3 linked regions of the Homo sapiens genome follow. The protein of the gene in region 1 purifies or fractionates together with the protein of each later gene. This does not show direct contact. Each region holds a gene or a part of one and is shown on either strand. Other genes may lie near its edges.

Evidence for each region.
Region 2: the proteins of EN1 (region 1) and TLE4 purify together in Homo sapiens (affinity purification with mass spectrometry; 2 studies listed by BioGRID and IntAct, with this or other methods). This does not show direct contact.
Region 3: the proteins of EN1 (region 1) and TLE3 purify together in Homo sapiens (affinity purification with mass spectrometry; 2 studies listed by BioGRID and IntAct, with this or other methods). This does not show direct contact.

Annotation. Positions count from the first base shown.
Region 1 is NC_000002.12:118,844,591-118,852,162, reverse strand, and holds the start of EN1 (homeobox protein engrailed-1), read left to right. Parts: upstream 1-4,514; 5' UTR 4,515-4,995; coding exon 4,996-5,857; intron 5,858-7,572. UniProt on the Homo sapiens protein: Required for proper formation of the apical ectodermal ridge and correct dorsal-ventral patterning in the limb.
Region 2 is NC_000009.12:79,707,897-79,715,001, reverse strand, and holds part of TLE4 (transducin-like enhancer protein 4), read right to left. Parts: intron 6,885-7,105; coding exon 6,752-6,884; intron 6,410-6,751; coding exon 6,216-6,409; intron 5,380-6,215; coding exon 5,303-5,379; intron 1-5,302. UniProt on the Homo sapiens protein: Transcriptional corepressor that binds to a number of transcription factors. Inhibits the transcriptional activation mediated by PAX5, and by CTNNB1 and TCF family members in Wnt signaling.
Region 3 is NC_000015.10:70,052,886-70,059,990, reverse strand, and holds part of TLE3 (transducin-like enhancer protein 3), read left to right. Parts: intron 1-530; coding exon 531-581; intron 582-1,175; coding exon 1,176-1,328; intron 1,329-1,699; coding exon 1,700-1,832; coding exon of another isoform or gene 1,833-1,841; intron 1,842-2,332; coding exon 2,333-2,532; intron 2,533-3,616; coding exon 3,617-3,693; intron 3,694-4,692; coding exon 4,693-4,942; intron 4,943-5,305; coding exon 5,306-5,553; intron 5,554-6,616; coding exon 6,617-6,764; intron 6,765-7,105. UniProt on the Homo sapiens protein: Transcriptional corepressor that binds to a number of transcription factors. Inhibits the transcriptional activation mediated by CTNNB1 and TCF family members in Wnt signaling.

The sequences.
Region 1 (7,572 bases):
CACCCACCCCCACATTATTATGGGCTCCAGATGAAGACCGAAACCGCGAGCACTAATTGAATTAGTCTATTGAAAAAGACTGTCAGGTACAATGACGTGACTCGAGGCCCCACATTTCCCAAGGTCCATAGGCTTTGGGGACCTGCGATGTATAGTCTGACCTTGTAGCTCATAATAACGCGGCACTTGTAGCAGAAATCTCCTCGCATTCACTCCCAACAAAACCGCTGGTCATCCAGTCCCCGTAGGAAGGCTGCACGCTATTGTGTTGCGACAACTCATTCATGTCCCGCACCACGAGGCCCCACCGCCATCTGATCTACACTCGAAATGCGATTACCACCCTGTGCATGCAACATGCTCCTACTCCCAGCCCATGGCGCACACCCCTCGCCAGGCTGCAAGAATTTCTTTCGTAATTCTCCTTCTGGTCCTCATCCTCGAAAGAGAGGTGGAAACAAGCAGGACCCTGGCATTTGTCTTTGCTTACACAAAATCCAAAATTCTATGGACACACAGGCTGGTCTTCTTTTCTGAACAGCATACACCAAAACCCTCAGCAAATACATTTCTTCATGCCTGACTAGTGGGGCTGACTTGGGTGTACACATTAACATTCACATACATACAGGGGCCTCCTGCCACACACAACTACACACACACACACACACACACACACACACACACACAATACTTTTATAGACTAATTTTCTCTCTGGGTGGCTCTCACATACCAAGCAAATAAACACAAATATACACTCTGTTCCCCACAGCCACGGGCCACTCTTCAAGACCGCTGAGCGTTTTTCCCAAAATTAGAAAAGGAGAGAAAGAAAGGTAAAATTTCTCAGCCTTCACTCTGATAAACACATGCCAGTCTTCCGACTATATGATCCCCAAACTCCCCTAGCTAGCAGCTCCTCAAACAAGTATGCATCATTCTCCTCTGTTTGGCCAGGTGCCTTTTGCTCACTGGGAGCCCCTGCCTATCCTCAGAAAATGCAGGAAGTCCAAGGACTGGAGAAGGGAAGGACGGTTGGGGTCTCTCTCTGTCCTATTTACCCAACTCCCGATCACTGAAGGCCTCGTTGGGACCTCCTTCCTTCAAGTGAAAAAATGTAGCACCCCTCCCCCAACTTTGGCATTTGAGACAAAATAGAATCTTTATCTTTCTTGTCGTTCTCCACTTTTATCTGGGCTATCCCCAAGAAAAGGGTACTTGGGGACAATCAACTTATTGCAGAGACGCAGCCCAGTCCATGGCCTTCTGTGCGCCTCTAGCTCAGGTGACTGCATAGCTCAGAACTACAAGGCCATAGAAATACGCACTGGGTACCCCCACACTTCCCTACCTTCGGCCCAAGAGCAGATGGCATTTGGAGAAAGGGGCTCTATTCCATTTGAGTCAGGCTTCCCCACCTGCTACCTGCAGGCCCACCTCTCTGCCACCCCGGCCTGGGCATCTATCAAGTTGAAAGTAATTCCTTAGCTCCCAAAGGCAGAAACGAGTACCCCCAAAAGGACCGCCACACAAATATACCCACTCGTGCATATACAATCCTTTACACACACCCTAACCCTTTACTCACATACTTGTACACACAACTCACCCTGCCCGTAGTTCCTCACTCACACGCCCAATCCTGGGCTCACTCAGAGTCCTGTGAAACCCTCACCCATCCCTCTCGGCCAACATTTGTTCACTCAGCCCTCACACACTTCACTCGCATGCTTGACAAGACGCCAATGCGCTCACACAGAGTTCCCAATGGCATGTTCATTTGCAGGAGGGAGAAGAGGGCGTAGGGTCTGGGTGGAGGTCATGGAGCGCAGAGCGGCGCGGGGTACCGAGCGTCCGGCCCAGGCCGGGCCTCGGGGAGGTGGGGGGACGAGCCAGCGCGCAGAGTGCCGCCTAATCCAGCTCGAGCTCGTGGGCCGCGGGTGCATTTATCATCCCATTACTGTAACAAATCCGGGCTCCACTACATGAAAGGTAAAATGAATTACCGACGTTAAGCCGTCAATAAAGTCATTTCTGTAAATGGTGTCTCCAAAGGGCCGCCGTATTATTCAGCTGGCTTTATCAGCTGGCTGGAAATTACGTGGAGGAGCCGGGCCGCGCGGCGCGCGGGGCCGCTCACTTTGATTAAGCGTCTTGCCAGCGCGATGTGACAGAGCTTTTGACCAGGGTTTTATTCACAGGCCTGTGATGAACGCCAAGCTGATCAGGCGGAATGAAGAGTAATTAAAACCTATAAATTATCTTCCGCAGCCCTTCTCGAGGCGTCTCCTGCAGGCGAGATAAGGCGTCGAGACCCTATTTACCGCGCTGAAAGGGACCGCGGCGCACAAAAGCTACGCAGCTAAATAGGATATTGATAGTGTCCTAATTAGAATTTAATTAAGTACCCACGCTTGCTTGCGGGATAAAGATTTCAATTTTGCGAACTTAAATATAAATAAAATCCCACCCCCATTTCGGGGAGAAGGGGTGGGGGCGCCTGGAGATTTCGGGGAGCCCTTGGGTGTGCTACTGAAGAGGACTCGGGAGACTCCAAGGTGGGGTTGGAGGCGGCTTGGGAAGGTAGAGAAGACTGCAGCGCAGCGTTAGGGAGAGAGGTTTTCTCCCCTAGGCTGCAGCGCAAGTCTAGCCGGGAACTCAGCCCCGGAAATCGGGGGACCCTCGCCTGCTCCCAAGATGCGGTGAGCAATATAAATTCCTGCTCTCCACCAGCCCTTTTGAGAAACTTCAGCTACTGTGGTGGTGGTTCGGCTTGTTGTGGGTTTAGTTGCATGTTCCTCCTAGCCTAACCCTCTGTGACTTTTCTGGAAAACTGGAGGTAGGGGGATTCTTTCGCATGTCACAAATAGACAATATTTCCAAAGGGATCCTTTCTCTACTGTCCCAGTTGCGGAGGGCGTTCAGGGCGAGGAGGTCCGCTGGAGCTCTAAGATGACACCCCCGAAGGCCTCGTTTGCTGACGCCTTTCTCGGCCACCGCAGGCTTCAGCATAGTCGGATACTGGTCCTCCAAAACGAATCCGGAGACAAGTCCCGCAGGTGCCTAGAGCTTCAGTCCACACGCCACCCCCGTCCCTCACATTCCCGGTTATGAGAAAATTTTGGGGGTGCCTCGACCAGGAAATAGCGAAAAAGAGATCGGCAGACGGGAGAATGATAGCAGCTGGAGGAACGGCATTTCCCTCAAACTAGGGAAGAACGCACAGAGCTGGAGCCGGAGGCACCCAGGGAGTTGGGAGCAATCCCAGGAAATTCAGTCACCCGGCAATTGAGGGAAACTCCCTGTTCACAACTTCAGCTAGCCAGGGCAAATACTTGGGGTGCAGCGCTTTCATTTATTTGATTTTACTTTGCAGGGAAATCTAACACAGAGGTTACCCTGAACTCTAAAAGCTAGGGCCTAGCGCGCATCCGCGTTCTGACTCGCCGGCCCCGGGGCCCTCCTGAGATTAATCTGCGTTGCCCGGACTCCCACTGCCAGGGAAGGTCCAGGCAACTGGCTCTGGGGCTATTCCTAGCCCTCTGGGCTTGGCTCTATGGCGCCAGGGCAGCTCCAGGGTGTTGTCGAAAGTCTGGACCGGGAAGGGCATGGGTGCGGATTCCCCACAAAGGGAAAGCAATGCAGCGGGCCGGCAGGAGACGTACAAACGTAAACGTGCGACGCTAGCTAGGCGCAGCGGGCCTTTCAGATTTTGCTATTTGTGAAAAACAAATTGCGCCTCTGAAAGTAACCAACTCTAGGTCTATTTCACATCACCGACCTCCCTGTCTCACTCCCCCTCCCTCCACTACACACACCCAAACCCACACCCACCCACAAACACACAAACCGGCAGTGACAACAACCACCCATCCTTCAATAACAGCAACCAGAGACAGAGGAGAAAATAAAAAGCTGAGTTTCTTAGGCGTGGGGGTGCAAAACAGCCAGGCTCCTGCCTACTGCCCCTGCTCCCGTAGCTCACAGACCCATAATCCTGCATTTCTCTAACAAGTTGTTTATGGAGTTGCTTCTCCATTTGCCTACATCCCAAAATTCACCCCTCCCGGGTTTCTTCTGCCCCCTCCTGAGTCCCGGCCTGAAGGAGGGGGAGGGACGCGGGTGCGGGCGCGGGTGGGGGAGGGCGGACCCGACGCACAGGGCCAGCGCCGAGGCGCCCCCTCTCCGCCAGCGGTTGACGCCCCCGGATTATTTATCCGCAAAGTCCCGCGCGCGCCCATTGGGCCGAGGCCCGAGTGTCAGCGCGAGTCCCGGCTCGCCATTGGCTCCGCACACGTGCGGCCCTGACTCACGTGCTTCCGGTTTGAAGGCAAAAAGTGTGCCTGGGTGATTTTTTTTTTAAGCGAGAGAGTTTGTGCAAAGATCCGAGCTGTCAGAGATTTGAAAAAAAAAAAAAAAAAAAAAAAAAAAAAAACAGCCCGGCGCTGGCGGAGACGCGCTCTCCCTGCAAAAAAAGCAAAGGCGATTAAAGGCGCTGCCAGCCTCACGCTCTGGGCACAGCTGAGCGTGACACTCGGGGAAGTCAAACCCCTCACTACTGCCTAGGAAGATGGCTAGACTTTAAATACTATTTTTTTCCCTTTAAGAAAAAAATTATTGGAGCTTTTTTTCTTGCTTTCTTTTTCCTTTTCTTTTTCTTTTTTTCCTTCATTTTTTTGGCCGTGGCTTACTCCCCATTTAAATCAAATCATTGAATCTGGTTGCAGAAAGAAAAAAGAAATAGCCAAGTGTCTCCATATCTGGATGTCTACAAATTAGAGAGGGAGAGACAGCGAGATCTATCTGCTAGATAAGAACGAGCGATCCAGGCCAGACGCCTGAGCTTTTTTCCTGCACCCGCCCCGTGCCTTCGCTGAGGCTTCGCCTGCCTCCTTCCTCCGCGCACCCCCACGGGCCGCTGGCAAAGTGGGGTGGGGAGCGAGGCGGTGGGGGCGGGGGCCGGCGCGGCGGCCGGGGCGGCGGGGCGGCCGAGCATGGAAGAACAGCAGCCGGAACCTAAAAGTCAGCGCGACTCGGCCCTCGGCGCGGCGGCGGCGGCGACTCCGGGCGGCCTCAGCCTGAGCCTCAGTCCGGGCGCCAGCGGCAGCAGCGGCAGCGGCAGCGATGGAGACAGCGTGCCGGTGTCCCCGCAGCCTGCGCCCCCCTCGCCGCCCGCGGCGCCTTGCCTGCCGCCCCTGGCCCACCACCCGCACCTCCCCCCACACCCCCCGCCCCCGCCGCCTCAGCATCTCGCGGCGCCTGCTCACCAGCCGCAGCCAGCGGCCCAGCTGCACCGCACCACCAACTTTTTCATCGACAACATCCTGAGGCCGGACTTCGGCTGCAAAAAGGAGCAGCCGCCACCGCAGCTTCTGGTGGCTGCGGCGGCCAGAGGAGGCGCAGGAGGAGGAGGCCGGGTCGAGCGTGACAGAGGCCAGACTGCCGCAGGTAGAGACCCTGTCCACCCGTTGGGCACCCGGGCGCCAGGCGCTGCCTCGCTCCTGTGCGCCCCGGACGCGAACTGTGGCCCACCCGACGGCTCCCAGCCAGCCGCCGCCGGCGCGGGCGCGTCTAAAGCTGGGAACCCGGCTGCGGCGGCGGCGGCGGCCGCGGCGGCAGTGGCGGCGGCGGCGGCGGCCGCAGCAGCCAAGCCCTCGGACACCGGTGGCGGCGGCAGTGGAGGCGGCGCGGGGAGCCCCGGAGCGCAGGGCACCAAATACCCGGAGCACGGCAACCCGGCTATCCTACTTATGGGCTCAGCCAACGGCGGGCCCGTGGTCAAAACTGACTCGCAGCAGCCTCTCGTATGGCCCGCCTGGGTGTACTGCACACGTTATTCGGATCGTCCATCCTCCGGTGAGTACCCAACTCCGGGCTGCGCCATGCCTTCTGGCCCCGCGGACCGCCCCAGAACGCCAAGCTGCGGCGCTAGGGAGAGCAAACCCGGCCTCGGGTACTCCAGTCTCTCACGCCTGCTTCCTCACCCCAGTTCCAGTCACAACCGAATGTTCATCCAGCTATGCGATCCTGGCCTCTGCGGCCACCACCCGAGAAGCTACAGCTCGTGGCACAGGAGGCTCGGGTCTCGATTCTTTGATTTTGAACTCTGAATCCCTGGGGCCTTCTTTGTCTCTTATCTTTATTATTCTTAGGAAAAGTACATAGTCAGTGATTTTCTTTCCAGGGTGTTTAGATAAGGCAGGAAGGTGGGCCTAGTGATGTGTGTCTGAAATCCCACCAGCCTGATCGTCCGAAGGCCAGATTTGACCAGAGAAGGCCTTGTTCAGAAAAATTATATTCACTGTGTGTCCTTACAGACACAAACACCATCTCGATATTTTCTGCGGAGAGACCGTTTACATTGATAAACATGGGAAACACAGGAAGACAGGGAGGAAAGCGTCTGAAAGCCGTCCCTCTCCCCCGGCTGGGTAGCGAAAAGAGTCTGACCCGGGTGGGTAGAAACCAGGGAAAGGCAGTTGCCAAAAAGGTGGGTGCTGGCAGCCCCTGGTTTTCTGGAGCTGAAAAACAGTGGGAGAGGAGAGAAAACAGGTCAGGCTCAGGCCAGGAAGCGTGTCCAAGGGCATGAGAGCCAGTTTCCTCCGTAGCTTCTCCGCGGAACGGTTCCCGCATCCTCCCCGCGCGGCGCTTTCCTTTTTTCACCCGCACATCCAGCAGACTTCTGGCATCCGTAGGCCTGTTTTTCTCGGCTTTCCTTCCACCACTTTTCCGTGTGCCCCTCGCGCTTGGCGAACCCGAGGAGGAGACCTGAGCTGGGCTCCGGGAGAGAAGGCCAAGGCCTGCCTGACGCCCCGGCCCGCAGTGTCTGGGAGAGCGGCAGAAGCTTTGGCCCAAGATCAGCACTCCAGACACCCGGTCCGGCAGGGGGCCGGGAACAACGTAGCCACGCGCCGCTTTCCTCTGGCTGGTCTCTCGCCGCCCCACAGCTGCCGGCCGGGCGCGGATCGATGCGCACTATCAGCTCCCGCCATCTCGAGCCCCGTTATTGACACGTCGGGCTCCCTGAACCTCCGAAAAGCTGCTTTGATTGACTCGCCTGATGGATAGAGTGATTGAGCTGTCAGGCTGCACGGCTCGGGCTGGCCGGGAGACTAGGAACGATTTTATTACAAGAGTCCGTGCCTCTGCACACACATACAACAACACTTCAACATGTCCCGGATGCAGAACGGGCAGTGGGGCCTTTTTGGGGCTGTGTGCATTTCTTGGGCTATTTCTCCCCGCTCAGCTAATTACGAATCAAAACCCCAGTTCTGCTCTGGAGAGGGCCTTGGCTTTGTTCTTGGCCACTTTCCTTCTTATGGGCCTGGGTAGGTAGGGGACCAGCTCCTTCTCCTGCTTGGGCAGTTGGGGGAGGAGGGGATGAGCCTCGACCCAGATCTGAGTCGCTGCAGTATGCTAGGCCTGGACTCTTTGTCATAGGACAGCTGGTTACCCCAGCCTCCTGCCTGCCCCAGGAGTAGGCTGCCCAGCCTTCCTCTCTGTAGCTAGGTTTGGAGATGCCGGCAAAGATCCTTCTTTCCAGACAGTTTTAGAGATGAACAGGCCTG
Region 2 (7,105 bases), on another chromosome or scaffold:
CTATTAGTATACATAGAAGGCACTCAGAACTGGAAATAATAAAGCTCTAGTACATACTTATTATCAGATTTCGATAAACTCTTTGACTGTAACTAGCAAATACTCCTGGAAGGTATGAGGGAAGTCAACATTGCTAGGAATCAGAGAAACCGAGGCGCAAAGGGCTACTCTGTTTCTAACTAATTTAATGCACAATGTGTTAAGTACCTCCCATCCATATACTCTGACGCAAACGTCATGCTAAGGATACAAAACTAGGTAATGCACCTGGTCTTGCCCACAAGTGACTAACAATCTAGTTAGCATGATGAGAGAAAAGTACAGAAATGACAATATCAGGTCACATTCTAATGGAAAGTATTCTGAAGTGTTTTGAAAAGGAAAGAAAGTTTATGTTGGATGAGAGACAGACATGGTAATAGAGATGGGTTTTTAAAGAATGAAAAGATACCATCGAGTAAAGAGAAAGATGGAAAAAATATTCCAGATAGCAAGAATAGCAGAGAGCAAAAGTTCCAAAAGGATGAGGTAAAATGAGCTGGGAAATCCTTGAATTGGTTTTAATCCAGGAATTCATTCAATAATAACTACACAGTAGGTGGATGGAGGAACTGGCCAAGCATAGTCTGAAAAAACATACCAGATCTATATCTCTATATAATTAAAATCAATGTAATGCTATAAAAGGGAAGGACCAGAATGCCAGCCTGAGACCTTCCCAGAATTGACTGAAGAGATTTTTGAGGGATAAAGGGAGTGTGCCATTACTGGGCAAAGCTATTCATAAAATAAACTTGGTAGCAAGGAGTAGGATGGACAGGAGGAATTAAAAACAATTATTCCTGTTGGGCGCGGTAGCTCAGGCCTGTAATCCCAGCACTTTGGGAGGCCGAGGGGAATGGATCACTTGAGGTCAGGAGTTCGGAGACCAGTCAGTGAAACCTCATGTCTACTAAAAATACATAAAAATTAGCCAGGTGTGGTGGCGCATGTGCCTGTAATCCCAGCTACTTGGGAGGCCGAGGCATGTGAATCATTTGAACCCAGGAGGCAGAGGTTGCAGTGAGCTGAGATTGAGCCACTACACTCCAGCGTGGGTGACAGACCGAGACTCTCTCTCAAACAACAACAACAACAACAACAACAACAAACAACAACAATTATTCCAACAATTTAAGTAAGAGGTACTGGGGGTCCTGAACCAGGCAAGGGCAAGGATGACAAGTTAGAAGGTACAATGGATATAAAATCCTGTAGGACTAAATTGACGAGATCTGAGGAGGAGCTAGAGTAACTGAGTTTCTGAGCTCAGGAAAAAAGAAACATGGTACTTGTAGTTAACAAAAAAAGGGCAAACTGGGAAGAGGACCTAATTTACAAAAGTACTTTCTGAATATAATGAATTTGTGGTGCAAGTAACATACACCCAAGATCCCTAGCTAAGATGCCCAACAAATAACTAGAAATACAGGGCTGGAGGGAGAGGGTGCAGGGAGTCAGAGAAATAGAGTGACCTGACCTCCTCTCAACACGAACACACACACCACAGGTTAAGCTGCTACGAGCAGAGTGGCTCTCCAACAAACATGGCGATGAGAATAAGAGACAGTTGAAGAAAATGCTAGGCTTGGACTCTCTGACATAACTACACTTTAAACAATCCAGACACATGCAATTTGCTTTTTTAAAAACATGTGTGTCAAACTTGTTATATATGGATTATCATCTTGACAAAGACCCAGCATATTTAAAGAAGGTCACTGGCTTTCCCACCTTCCCCTCATTCTCCTCTCTGAGGCCCAGTTCTGTTATGCTGTGCTCATCTCTCACGCGCACAGTACCTTCTCCACATTTCCAATGTGTCACAAGATGGGCTTCGACCTTGAGGTCACAATGAGAGGTCTGGTTATTGTATTTTACATTGAAATACGATAGAAAATTCTGTTCTAAGTAGCATACAGACCAGTGAGTTAGCCAACAAATACTCGTTGAAGGTTTTTACTATGTATCAGGCATTATTCTCATTTGAAAATCTTGCTTTATAAAAATAAATCAATGCAAAAGAGTCAGATTTCTGAATTGTGAGCAGCCTATAATCCACTAACGTGAGATCTTTTATTTTTGCTGTGTTCACATGTCACATCTCATACAATTAGTACCGTGATGTTAATCAAATAGTTATACACTAGCCATAGAAGTCTCATTTGAGTAGCAGGTGAAGGAGAAGGGCCATTTTTGGCTTATGTTGAAATTAAACTATGCTGTTATTCCAACTACATATGAAGTAGAACCTCTGCTAATTCACCTGAGCAGACAAGAGGATTCAATGTGAATTATACAATAAACACCATTTTATTAATTTGGAACATGCATTTAATTATAATTTCTGATCATATCTAGCAATTCATTGTGTGAAATAATTAGAACAGAGACACATAACTTTTATAAGTCTTTCTGGAGAAAGGTAGTTACATTGTGGGTATGTATGGTGGAGGAAGACTTTAGGTGATTTTTTATTTTATTTTCTAGCACACTTAAAAAAGTTTTGTCTTGAAAAATATGCACAAGACAACATTGCACAATTCAGTATCTTATGATCTGGAGAGCCACATAACTGTTATATTCATTTCTGCTGTAAAAATCTATAATAAAAGTATATTATCTCTGTATGCATATAAGTGAATGTAACTTTATACGTCTTCATGCTCTGTTACATAAAGACACACCAATGACCCATCTTCTTGGGTCACTTCTGCCCCTAAAACACAATGTACCTCCTACTACATAAGTAGCTGAAAAATGAATAATATGCTGGGACAAAGCTGAAAGGGAAATAATGCTGGGGTTGACTAAACAGCCACCATGTAACAAATGTGGCACTGAATGAACACACAACATATTATCTTACTTCCTATCTTCACATCCTTCTTGTTGAGGAGGGGCCATCCCTGATTCATGAATGAGCTGATTGAAGCTCACAAAGAAATTGTGCATAAAGCCACTCTTCTCAGTGGTTCAACTGGCAGAGTCTAAATTCAAACTTGGATCTGTCACACTCCCAAAACCATACTCTGTTGACTGCACCACATGCTTTTTAGTAGTGTCATTTTCCTGGTAAAGTGTCATTTGCCAACTGCAGTAGATGTGACTCTGTCACTCTCATAAACAAAAATTCTCAACAATCCTCCAATCCATTAACCCACCCTAAAGGATCTTAAACATTTAAACATTTTATAACATCGAAAGTTAAAACTGATGAAGGGAAGTCAGCCCAAGACTCAGAAGCACCATCTGAGTCAGAGCAGCTGTGATTCCACAGTGGTTTAACTGGTCCAAATCCCTTAGCCAAGGTGTTTCCTTAAAGACACTTACACCCCTTGCCCCTCGAAGCAGCAGCTGAGGCAAGAAGCATCATCTCATTTGCTCTAGTGGTTATGCTGTAGCTCTGGGTACAACTGTTGGTTACCTAAGAAGTAACCAAAAAAAAGGGATAGTACTTCTTCCCTAAAGGAACCCTTCCACTTTCCCCACAAGTTCATATGGAACTTGTAGGTATCTGAGTCATTATTTGATTAATTGTATAACCTTGTTATTTAGCATTGCTTGAAATAGACCCAACTTTCACCTTCAAATACATCAAAGTTTCTTGGTCAATAAGACTTGTTAGTCAACAACTATTTGCAAAACACACACAGGTACACAGAATTTTATGGTAATTGATATTTATACCTTCAACTCTTGAGGAACTCTAATTTGTCTTTTCTCCCCTATTAATCAGCCAAATATTTACCAAGCAACTTGGCTGTGGAGCCAGCACTGTGCTTGATACAACAAAGGAAGGTTAGGATAGAGTCTGTAGAGAAGTATTAATATGCTACAAAAGGAAGAACTGAGATTTGGATTCCTCAGATGGAAAGTAAAGAAAGGGTCTAGGTTAGGCAACACTGAAGGGATGTGGGGAGAAGAGGGCACGCAATTAACACCAGGGTGAAAACTAAGTGCCCGAGTGTGTGGGAGTGAATAAACAAGCAATGGGAGGTCCGAGAAGAAAGAAATCAGCACATATCCATTCCCTGAATAAATCCATACCGTGAGCACCACTATGAACCAGGTACCATTCTAGGCAGTGAGACTGCTTCTATAACTGAATAGCAGAAAGTTCTGTTCTGTTTTCATGGAACTTATAGTCAAGAGGGAGAGGCAGATAATGGCTATAAAAAAGCATTAAAAAGGTAGTAGAAGAGGAAAGAATAGGGAGGAAGGGAAAGAGGGATAATAGGGTTGTCAGGGCAGAACGCTCTGACATAATGACATCTTAGATAACTAAATGAGACACTAAGCCACAGAAAGTTTTGCAGGAAGAAGGACAGTAAGGACAAAATACCTCAAGGCAGGCAAGCTACCAGGGAAGCCTCTGGGAGAAGGCGCCTTGAGCTGCTACTGAGGGTCAGGTCTGGATAGCCCTGGAGACTGGGGAGGCAGCACATACACGGCATGTGTAGTGACAGAGGGGATGCCCACAGAAAGAGTGATGAGAAAAATGCACACACACAGGTGACTAACAAGGCAAGGAGGATCTGCGGGGGAGGCTTCCCAAAGGAGAAGCGAGAGAAAGCAGCCAGCTGGGATTTTAAAGAAACAGCCAGTGCTACTTTATAGTAAAATCTTTGTTTCTGGGAAGATGAAGCCAATTAGCAGAGACAACTGTGATTAGGTAGTAATAAAAAGGTGCATTAGATTAAAATAAAGTATTTGGAATGAGATCCGTTCAGAGAAGGCTAGAACAACTGGTGTGTTGTGTTTTGTCTTTCCTAACTCAAGGAATCTGTGAATACAGAGGCTCCAGATGCCCAGAGCACGGTATAAGAAGCCAACTAAGCAAGTCACCTTTTCTGAAAACAGAACTAAGCATAAGAGTGCCCTTATTTCCTTTCAGCCTTTGAGGTTTGGCATGTCTTTTCCCAACATATTCAAATTTTGAACATTCAGGTTTGCACATAATAATCAGACTTTTGGAACAAAGAATTGCCTTGAAATCTGCAACAGATGTAGAGAAGACCTGACTACTGGAGATGCCTCTGCAATTTGCATTTACATATTAAAGCTCAAAATTTTACAATGCAAAACCCCACTTCATTACTTCTCTTCTTGTGCTAAGAGAAAATGAAAAATACCTTGCAAGGTAAAAAAATACAAGTCATGGGAACTCCCCCAACACTGTCTAGTGGTATTCTAAGTCTACGGGGCCAGCAAGGGACCTGAGTTTGACACACAATGAGCACAGAGGCAAAAAGGTACTCACGGTTTTCCTCCTGGAATGCCTGTCAGGTTTGGAGGTATTGCTGGCACACGCATGTGATGGTGTGGATCAAATCCCACCTAGAATTTTTCCCAAGCAAACAACAGAAATAAGCACAGTTACATTTGACTTGTTTTATCCTTCTCAAAATCTATTCTAAAACCTGGGAGAATAGATCCTTTAAAAATAAGGTTTTAGAGATATATACAGAAGTATTTATTGGTGAAATGATAACCAATGTTTAGGATTTAATGGTAACATACTTGGGGGTGGAACACAGATTAAAAAATTATACTAATGATTATTGAAGCTCATGGTAGAACCAAAGAGTCATTACATTCATTATACTATGTGATCTAATTCTGTAGGTTTGAAGTTTCCAAAATTAGTATCATTTTGGAAAATTTAAAATTAGTATTCTTTTAAAAAGACATATAAAATAAAAAAGAAACTTCTTCACCTTACAAAAGAAAATGGACCTCAAGATTATAATCACATGTAGCTTAACTTATAAATACCCACAGATCTCTAAATACCTTAGATTATATAAATTACATTAAAAAATAGATAGGCCAGGCATGGTGACTCATGCTTGTAATCCTAGCAATTTGGGAGGCTGTGGCAGGCAGATCATATGAGGCCAGGAGTTCGAGACCAGACTGGGCAACATGGTGAAACCCTGCCTCTACAGAAAATTTTAAAAATTAGCTGGGCATGGTGGCGCATGCTGTTTTTTCGAGCTACTTGAGAGGCTGAGGTGGGAGGATCGCTTAAGCCCAGGAGGCAGAGGCTGCAGTGAGCCAAGATCATGCCACTGCACTCCAGGCTGGGTGACAGAGCGAGACCCTGTCGCAATCAATCAAGCATGACAATCCTCCGTGTGCTAAAATATTATTTGTGAAGCTCACAAACGCACCACTGGTGATCTCCCATAGGCAGCAGCAGCAGCGGCGGCGGCAGCAGCTGCGCTCATCTGAGGGGAGATGTTGTGGAGCCCAGCGTAGGCCGCTCCGGGGCTGGTCAGCTCTCCGTTCATTCCAGCATGGGGCACAATCCCAAATGGAGTTGGATATGGACAAGGTACTGCCATTGGGGTCCTTAGGCTTGAGGCTGCAAACCAAAATGGATGGAAGAAAAATGAAGAACACAGGAAACAACAGTGAAGACATTTGTAAACATGTCACAAAATAGAATCTATGGTTCAAATGAGCTTATTTTAATATTCTCAAAAGTCATTCAAGCCTTCAGAATTCACTCATTCACTTTGTTCTATTGAACACTTACCATGTGCCAGACAAGGTTGGTCCCAGGTGCTCGGTTCAGGTTAAGTAACTTTGTCTAACAGCCATTCAATGCTGGTCATTAGCACTTTTAATGTACTGTACTCCTTAAATTGCTTTAAATTCTTAAAAACGAGCATAAAAATATAGAAAAAACTTTTTTCTTACTAACCCAAAGGGTCAACTCCTGGTGGTTTTCCAGGTACAGGCCTCAATCCGGGAGTAGAGTTACTGCCTGGGGTGGGCGCATCAGTTCGTGGAGTAGGGGTATTGGACTTTGAGACGGGAGTAGTAGATTTTTCATTCTAACAAGATGAAATGACATATACCAGCAATTAGAACATGGTTTTAACAATGACGTTAAACAGTAAAAAGGTAAAGAAAAGGAAAGGAGGAAAAGAAATGGAAGAGGTTCTTCAGCTTGGGCCTTGATTTTCTTTAATAGAAAAGTTAACAAAGAAACAAAAGAGTTCCTTGAGACAGCAGACCTAATATTTGGGAAGACATAAACTGAAGCTGAATTTAG
Region 3 (7,105 bases), on another chromosome or scaffold:
CAGGGCCTCAGCGGTCTTGCACCCAGCCCTCTTCAGCCACATGGCTGCTGTGTGGCTTTGGACACATTGAGCACCCAAAGGACACTCAGCTGTGTTTCTGTGAGAGGAGGCAAGTTACTATCCCACACAGATGGGTGGGAATGACCAGGTGAGAGCAGCACACTGACTGTGAAGGATGGTGGATGTAAAACCAGCTGGGAAGAAGGTTCTGGCTTCAGAGAGAAGCAGAAGGGCAGGCTGTGGGGGCAGGGGCTTAGAACTGCTATGATGGAGCGGGTGTCAGTGCGGCTGCCCAGTGGGTACAGGAGTGGAGTAACCCGGGGCCTGGGCTAGGGGACAGCCTCACGGGGAGACCGTGTTGAGCTGGAGTGGAGCCTGTTGAAGGGCAGGGCTGGAGTAGAAAGCATGGACTTTGGGGTTTGGCCTGGCTTCAGGTCCTGGCCAGTAGAAGGACAGGGTGGTTTGGGCTCAGTCAGGGGTGGGGAAAGTGTGGCCTCTTACTGACCAGTTGGCTTCTCTCTTGGTTGCAGGACAGTGATGGAGACAAGAGTGATGATCTGGTGGTGGATGTTTCCAATGAGGTATGGGCAGGCCCGGTCGCAAGGGGGCTCTTGGTTTGGCATGGTTTGGAATTATTCCTCCCCAGGGTGGGATCTATTCTGTCTGTTCTAGTATTACTGGCAGCCTGAGCAGGGAGACAAGGCCTCCAGTCTTGGGGTCTCAGGGGGTCAAGAGGAGCAGGGCAGGGCTTTGCTGCATGGTGTCTGGGCATTTATGGGCCTGGAGGGCCTCCTGCAATGGGTCTCCAGAGAGACACCCCCAAAGATCCCAGGTAGGGGCCATCTTCTATTCCCCGTGATCCTCCGTCCCCCCAGGGTCTCAGCCTCAGGGGCCTGAGGAGGAGCTGGAGAGCATCTACATTTGGCCAAACCCAGCCATGCTGATTGAAGTCCTGAACTTGTGTTTGACATTGGGAAGACCATCCTTCCACCCTCCCTAGGCCTCAGTCAGACCAGATGGTTAAGAGCTAGTTTTTCCTCACTGTGGGGCCCCCAGTCTTTCAGCCAAGCTCGTCTTCCCATCGCCCATGCCCTCTCTCTTCCCACTCCCAGAGCAGGGAAGCCTCGAGGCTGGCTGTTGCTTTCAGTGCATCTCTGCATCACTTGTGTTTTCAGGACCCCGCAACGCCCCGGGTCAGCCCGGCACACTCCCCTCCTGAAAATGGGCTGGACAAGGCCCGTAGCCTGAAAAAAGATGCCCCCACCAGCCCTGCCTCGGTGGCCTCTTCCAGTAGCACACCTTCCTCCAAGACCAAAGACCTTGGTCATGTATGTGGGGTCTGGGTGGAAGGGAGTGGGAAGGGAGCGGCAGGGACTGGAGCTGGGGTGGTGCCGATTGGCAGGCAGAGGGGTGGAGTGGGAGAAGCTGGGTGGGTGATTGGCCCCGGTTTACCTTCTGTGCCTGCTGGGCCTGTGCTAATGAGTTAACGTTTCTGAGCCTCGGTTGCTACGTCTGTAAAATGGGAGTGATCACCCCAGTCCCTGCCAAACAAGGTTGGGCAAGGATTGAGAGGCTGTTCGGCAGAAGCTTCATAAGGGTCTGGCTCTGGGCTTCACGTTGGGACCGGCACCAGTTGTGCCCGGCTCCTAGGAGAATGGAAGCCTCATGGCCTCCCTTGTTCTGCATCTCCCCTCTTCAGAACGACAAATCCTCCACCCCTGGGCTCAAGTCCAACACACCAACCCCAAGGAACGACGCCCCAACTCCAGGCACCAGCACGACCCCAGGGCTCAGGTCGATGCCGGGTAAACCTCCGGGCATGGACCCGATAGGTATAATGGGTAGGCACCATGGGCTGGGTTAATCTGATTGGGGGGAGGGGGTCTGCTCTTGGCCAGGGCAGGGGTGACACACACGCATGGGATAGAGCACAGGCAGTGTCTCCCAGGGCCTGCCCCTGGGGACTTCACGGTCAGATTTGAGGAGGTGACACCAGGGTTTCTGGGACCCCTGCTGGGCCAGACATGAAAGCAGCATCAGACGGGTCAGGGCTCCCAAAATCTGTTCCCACCCCTGTCATTAGTCCAGTGAGGCTCTAAGCAAGCCCATTTGGGCCTCCATATCCTGCTCTGTAAAAAGAGGTGGGTGCATCTGCCAAGCTCTAAGCTTCTTTGGCTCTGAAGGCAGGGATCCCACTTGGGTGGGTTCAGTCTGAGAGGACTGCCTGGAGCAGGCAGCTTAAGAATGCAGGGAGGGTTATTGCTGGGTGAGGCGGCCATGGCCATGTCCCAATCCACCTAAGGCCCACCTCCCTGACGCCCACCCCTCGCAGCCTCGGCTCTGCGCACGCCCATCTCCATCACCAGCTCCTATGCGGCGCCCTTCGCCATGATGAGCCACCATGAGATGAACGGCTCCCTCACCAGTCCTGGCGCCTACGCCGGCCTCCACAACATCCCACCCCAGATGAGCGCCGCCGCCGCTGCTGCAGCCGCTGCCTATGGCCGATCGCCAATGGTGAGCTTTGGAGCTGTACGTAGACCTTTTGGCTCCTTTCTTGGGGACTGGGCGTGGTGTGGGGAGCCAGTGGTTGGACGGGTGCTCCCCACATGCTAAAGGGGCCCCTCAGGGTCTCAAGGCCAGGCAGCTGCCCCTGTGGGAAGGTGTATCGGAAACAATTGAGACTTGGCTGGAAGGGTACACTCTTTGGGGCCAGCAGACCTGAGTTCCATCCCCCACTGGCCTGTGAGCCGCCCTGTGACCTCATGCAAGGCAGCCTCCCTTTTAGTCTGCAAAACGGGGCTGACACCTGGCTTTCCCAGCTCTGGGGGGTAGGAATCCCAGGGCAAGTCAGGTGATGTCCATGGAGCAGGGGTCTCGTAGATGGGACTGGTTGTACAAGACTTTCTATTGTGGTGAATAAATAATAAGAGTTAGGGGTCGAGCGCAGTGGCTCACGCCTGTAATCCCAGCACTTTGGGAGGCCAAGGCGGGTGGATCACCTGGGGTCAGGAAATCGAGACCAGCCTGGCCAGCCAACGTGGTGAAACCTCATCTCTACTAAAAATACAAAAATTAGCCGGGCGTGGTGGCAGGCGCTATTCGGGAGGTGAAGGCAGGAGACTCACTTGAACCTGGGAGGCAGAGGTTGCAGTGAGCCAAGATTGCACCACCGCGCTCCAGCTTGGGCGGCAGAGCGAGACTCCATCTCAAAAAAATAAAAATAAAAAGAAGAGTTAGGGTTGGCGGGGAGAGGGGCCCTTTTTCAGGAGACAGTTTTCCTTTTTACCTCCTGGACCTGGGGTGGCCTCCTCTCCACTGGCAGGCCCACTAGGACCACAGGAGAGGAAAGAAGTAGGGCAGGGCCAGCTCTGCCTTGCAGAACAGGGAGGATGCTGGTTCACAGTGGGGTCTGCACTGTCACCCCTTCCCTGCCACGGGCTGTCCTGGGCCTGTGTCTCCTCTGAATCAATGGGCTCTGCTCTGCTCAGCTTGTCTCTTGGGTTACAAAGTGGCAGAGCCGTGCAGGTAGGACCCCGGGTGGGTGGTGGAGGAGGCAGGGGTGGGGGTGTGTGGCAGCACGGCTGATGGAGGGCTGTCTTGCCTTGCTTTACAGGTTGGTTTTGACCCTCACCCCCCGATGCGGGCCACAGGCCTCCCCTCAAGCCTGGCCTCCATTCCTGGAGGAAAACCGTAAGCTTTGGCTATACTTACTGCATGCTTTGTAGGGTGGGCAGGAGAGAGCACTCTACCCCCAATTCCAACAACGCCCCTCATCCCCTGACCAAGGGTTTGCCCTGGTGCACCTCCCTTTGGAAAGGTATCTGTCCCTCTAGAGGCACCGAGGGCTGGTTGCAACCCCAGGAAACTGTAGCCAAGCCACACTTCTGAGCACCCACAGAAGCTCCCTCCGACAGAGGAGCCATGGAGTTAGCTAAGTACATGGCCACTGGGCTGGGAGAGAAGGAACACTCCTCACCGAGTCACCTGGAGCTGTGGTGGGCCTTGCCGACTCCTTTGGGTTCGACCTGCTGGGAAGGCCCCAGTGCCGCTGGTCGCAGGCCCTTCCCTGTCAGCAGTGCTTCCCTCCCCTGGAGGGCACACTCTCCCCGGCCCTTCACTTCCTTGGGTTGCTAGGAAACTAAAAGATTGAGCCTACAGATAATGCCGAGACACTGCCTGACACAGTCCTCTAATTGTCAACGAGAATCTAGATGCTGATTGAGAGGGCACCCACCAGAGCCTGAAACAGCAGGCAGGCCAGGCTGGCTCACCACAGGCTCTGACATGGACTTTCCCATTTGCTATTGCAGGGGCAAGCAGATCCCTTCCCTAATACCACCGGCTCCTAAAGCAAGAGGTGGCATTTCAGCCAGGCCCTTTCCAGGGTTGGCATGTTGGGGGAATGTATGGATCGTGGGAAAGGGCATTCCAGGACACCTGTGGGTTTCTGGTCTGATTTGAAGCAAGGATATATAACTGGGTGTAAAAATCAAAGCTGGTCTGTTAATCATGTCTACCTCGATGGAGCCATCCCAGTACATGGGGTTACTGGGTTCGAATGGTTTCAGAGCAGAGGGGGCTAGAGGCAGGGCAGCCAGTCGGGGGCAGTGCAGATGACCTGGGCCAGGCCTATGGGAACTCTGAGGGGCCGGGGTGGATGGCAGCAGTGACGGTTTCTCACCTTTTCAGAGCGTACTCATTCCATGTGAGTGCTGATGGGCAGATGCAGCCCGTGCCCTTCCCCCACGACGCCCTGGCAGGCCCCGGCATCCCGAGGCACGCCCGGCAGATCAACACACTCAGCCACGGGGAGGTGGTGTGTGCCGTGACCATCAGCAACCCCACGAGGCACGTCTACACAGGTGGCAAGGGCTGCGTGAAGATCTGGGACATCAGCCAGCCAGGCAGCAAGAGCCCCATCTCCCAGCTGGACTGCCTGGTGAGAATCCCAGGGCTGCTGCGCCGCCTCCAGCTGGTGTAGGAGGATGGGGCAGCCTGGGCCACAGGGGAGAGCCCCAGGGCCTGGCTCAGCATCGTATTGGCTGAGCAACTTTAGGCAAGCTGACTAACCTCTCTGAGCCTCAGTTGTGCCTTCTGTGTGTGGGGCTGATTCTGACCTCCTGGTATTCATGAAAGATCAAAGGGTTGTGAATTTGAGGAATGGGGACAGCCTGGCAGCTGCTGGGTATAGGGGGAGGCTGTAAGCAGGACTGGTGAGGGTGCTCGGTGTTGCTGGACAGGACTCTCCTGGTGCCCAGGAGGGGAAGTAGGCAGCACTCAGCCCTGCCCCTTCTCCCTCCAGAACAGGGACAATTACATCCGCTCCTGCAAGCTGCTCCCTGATGGGCGCACGCTCATCGTGGGCGGCGAGGCCAGCACGCTCACCATCTGGGACCTGGCCTCGCCCACGCCCCGCATCAAGGCCGAGCTGACGTCCTCGGCTCCCGCCTGTTATGCCCTGGCCATTAGCCCTGACGCCAAAGTCTGCTTCTCCTGCTGCAGCGATGGGAACATTGCTGTCTGGGACCTGCACAACCAGACCCTGGTCAGGTGAGCCGGCAGGAGGGAGCATTAGTGCCTCGTCCTGGGGAAGTTTTTACCCATCCTGCCTGGTCTTGTTTGCTGTGACCTTGGCCCTGTCTGAGGCACTGTGGGGTGGCCAGAACCGTTGGGATGAGGGATGCACAGGTGAAAAGACAGCTCCGCCTGCCTTATGCGAGGGACAGAGGAGGGAGGGCCATTGGGCCCAGGAGTTGGAGAGGGCTCTGGGAAGAAAGTGGAGCTGGAGCATGTCTGGGGAAGTGGAGGTCAGATTAGTGGAGCAAGCAGAGAGTCTGGGAGCAGAGCCCCAGAGACCAGATTAGGGAGACCCGACTGGGAAGCCACATCACGTGGTAGCTAAACAAGCCTCAGGACAAAACTGCTGGCTTTGAATCCTGCCTCCACTATGACCTAGTGCAAGTCGCTGAACCCCTGCGGCTCAGTTTCTTCCTGTGTAAAACAGTGACAGTGGAGCATCTTCCTCTGACTGTGCCGCAGCGCAAAGGCAGACGGGTGCCTGGCCCAGCTGACTCTTGTATACATGGGCTGTGTGTGTTATTCAGCGTGTTCATGGATGGCCTCAGCCCCATAGTTCATGCAGGATGAAGAGATAGATTAAGAGGGCAAATTGAGGGCGTGTGGAGTGCGAGTTAAGGAGCTGTGTCCTAAAGGCAGTGGGGCCCTGCATTCTCTTTATCAGTCATCTCACACGTAGCTTCCCCAGGGCCTTCCTGCCTTCCTCACCTTCCTGAGCCTCCAGCTCCACCTCCTCCAGAGGCCCACCCTGGAGGGACTCAGTCTCAGAAGGCTAGTGCAAGGTCCCTTTTTCACCTCCCCCCCCCATTTCCCAGGGGACTTGTCCCTGGGCAAACCCTTCCGTGGAACTGGAAAGAGGCCTGGAACTGGAAAGAGGCCGGGGCTAGCTTTGCTGCAAGCTCGCTAAGGGACCATGCGCATAGTGCACTCTTCTGGGCCTCAGTTTTCTCTTCTGCTCAGACTGCCCCTGGGATGGCCGCCACCTGGCAGTCTGTGGTTCCCGGGACTCACCCTCCTCCCTGCTTGGCTTTCGTAGGCAGTTCCAGGGCCACACAGATGGGGCCAGCTGCATAGACATCTCCCATGATGGCACCAAACTGTGGACAGGGGGCCTGGACAACACGGTGCGCTCCTGGGACCTGCGGGAGGGCCGACAGCTACAGCAGCATGACTTCACTTCCCAGGTGTGCGGCCCAAGACTCCTCCCTTCCCAAAGAGCAGTGTGTTCCCTCCCTCCGGGGCCCCAGTGGCTGGGTCAGGGACAAAGGGACCCTCACAGAGTGGCCACGGCCAAGAGACTTGGGACCAACCTGAGCCATCTGGGAAGGCTTCCTGGAGGAAGCAGCAGTGAAACAGATGGAGATGACCTTGGGGTTGGACACATTTGGCCCAACTGTGGAAATTCGATTCATTCTCTGCTGCTATTGAGCACTTTGTCCTCGGCGTCCTCATTCACAAGATGGAAATAATAGTAGCACCCTCCTAGGTCTGATGTGGGCACCTGAAATGATCCCTCTAAAAGGCG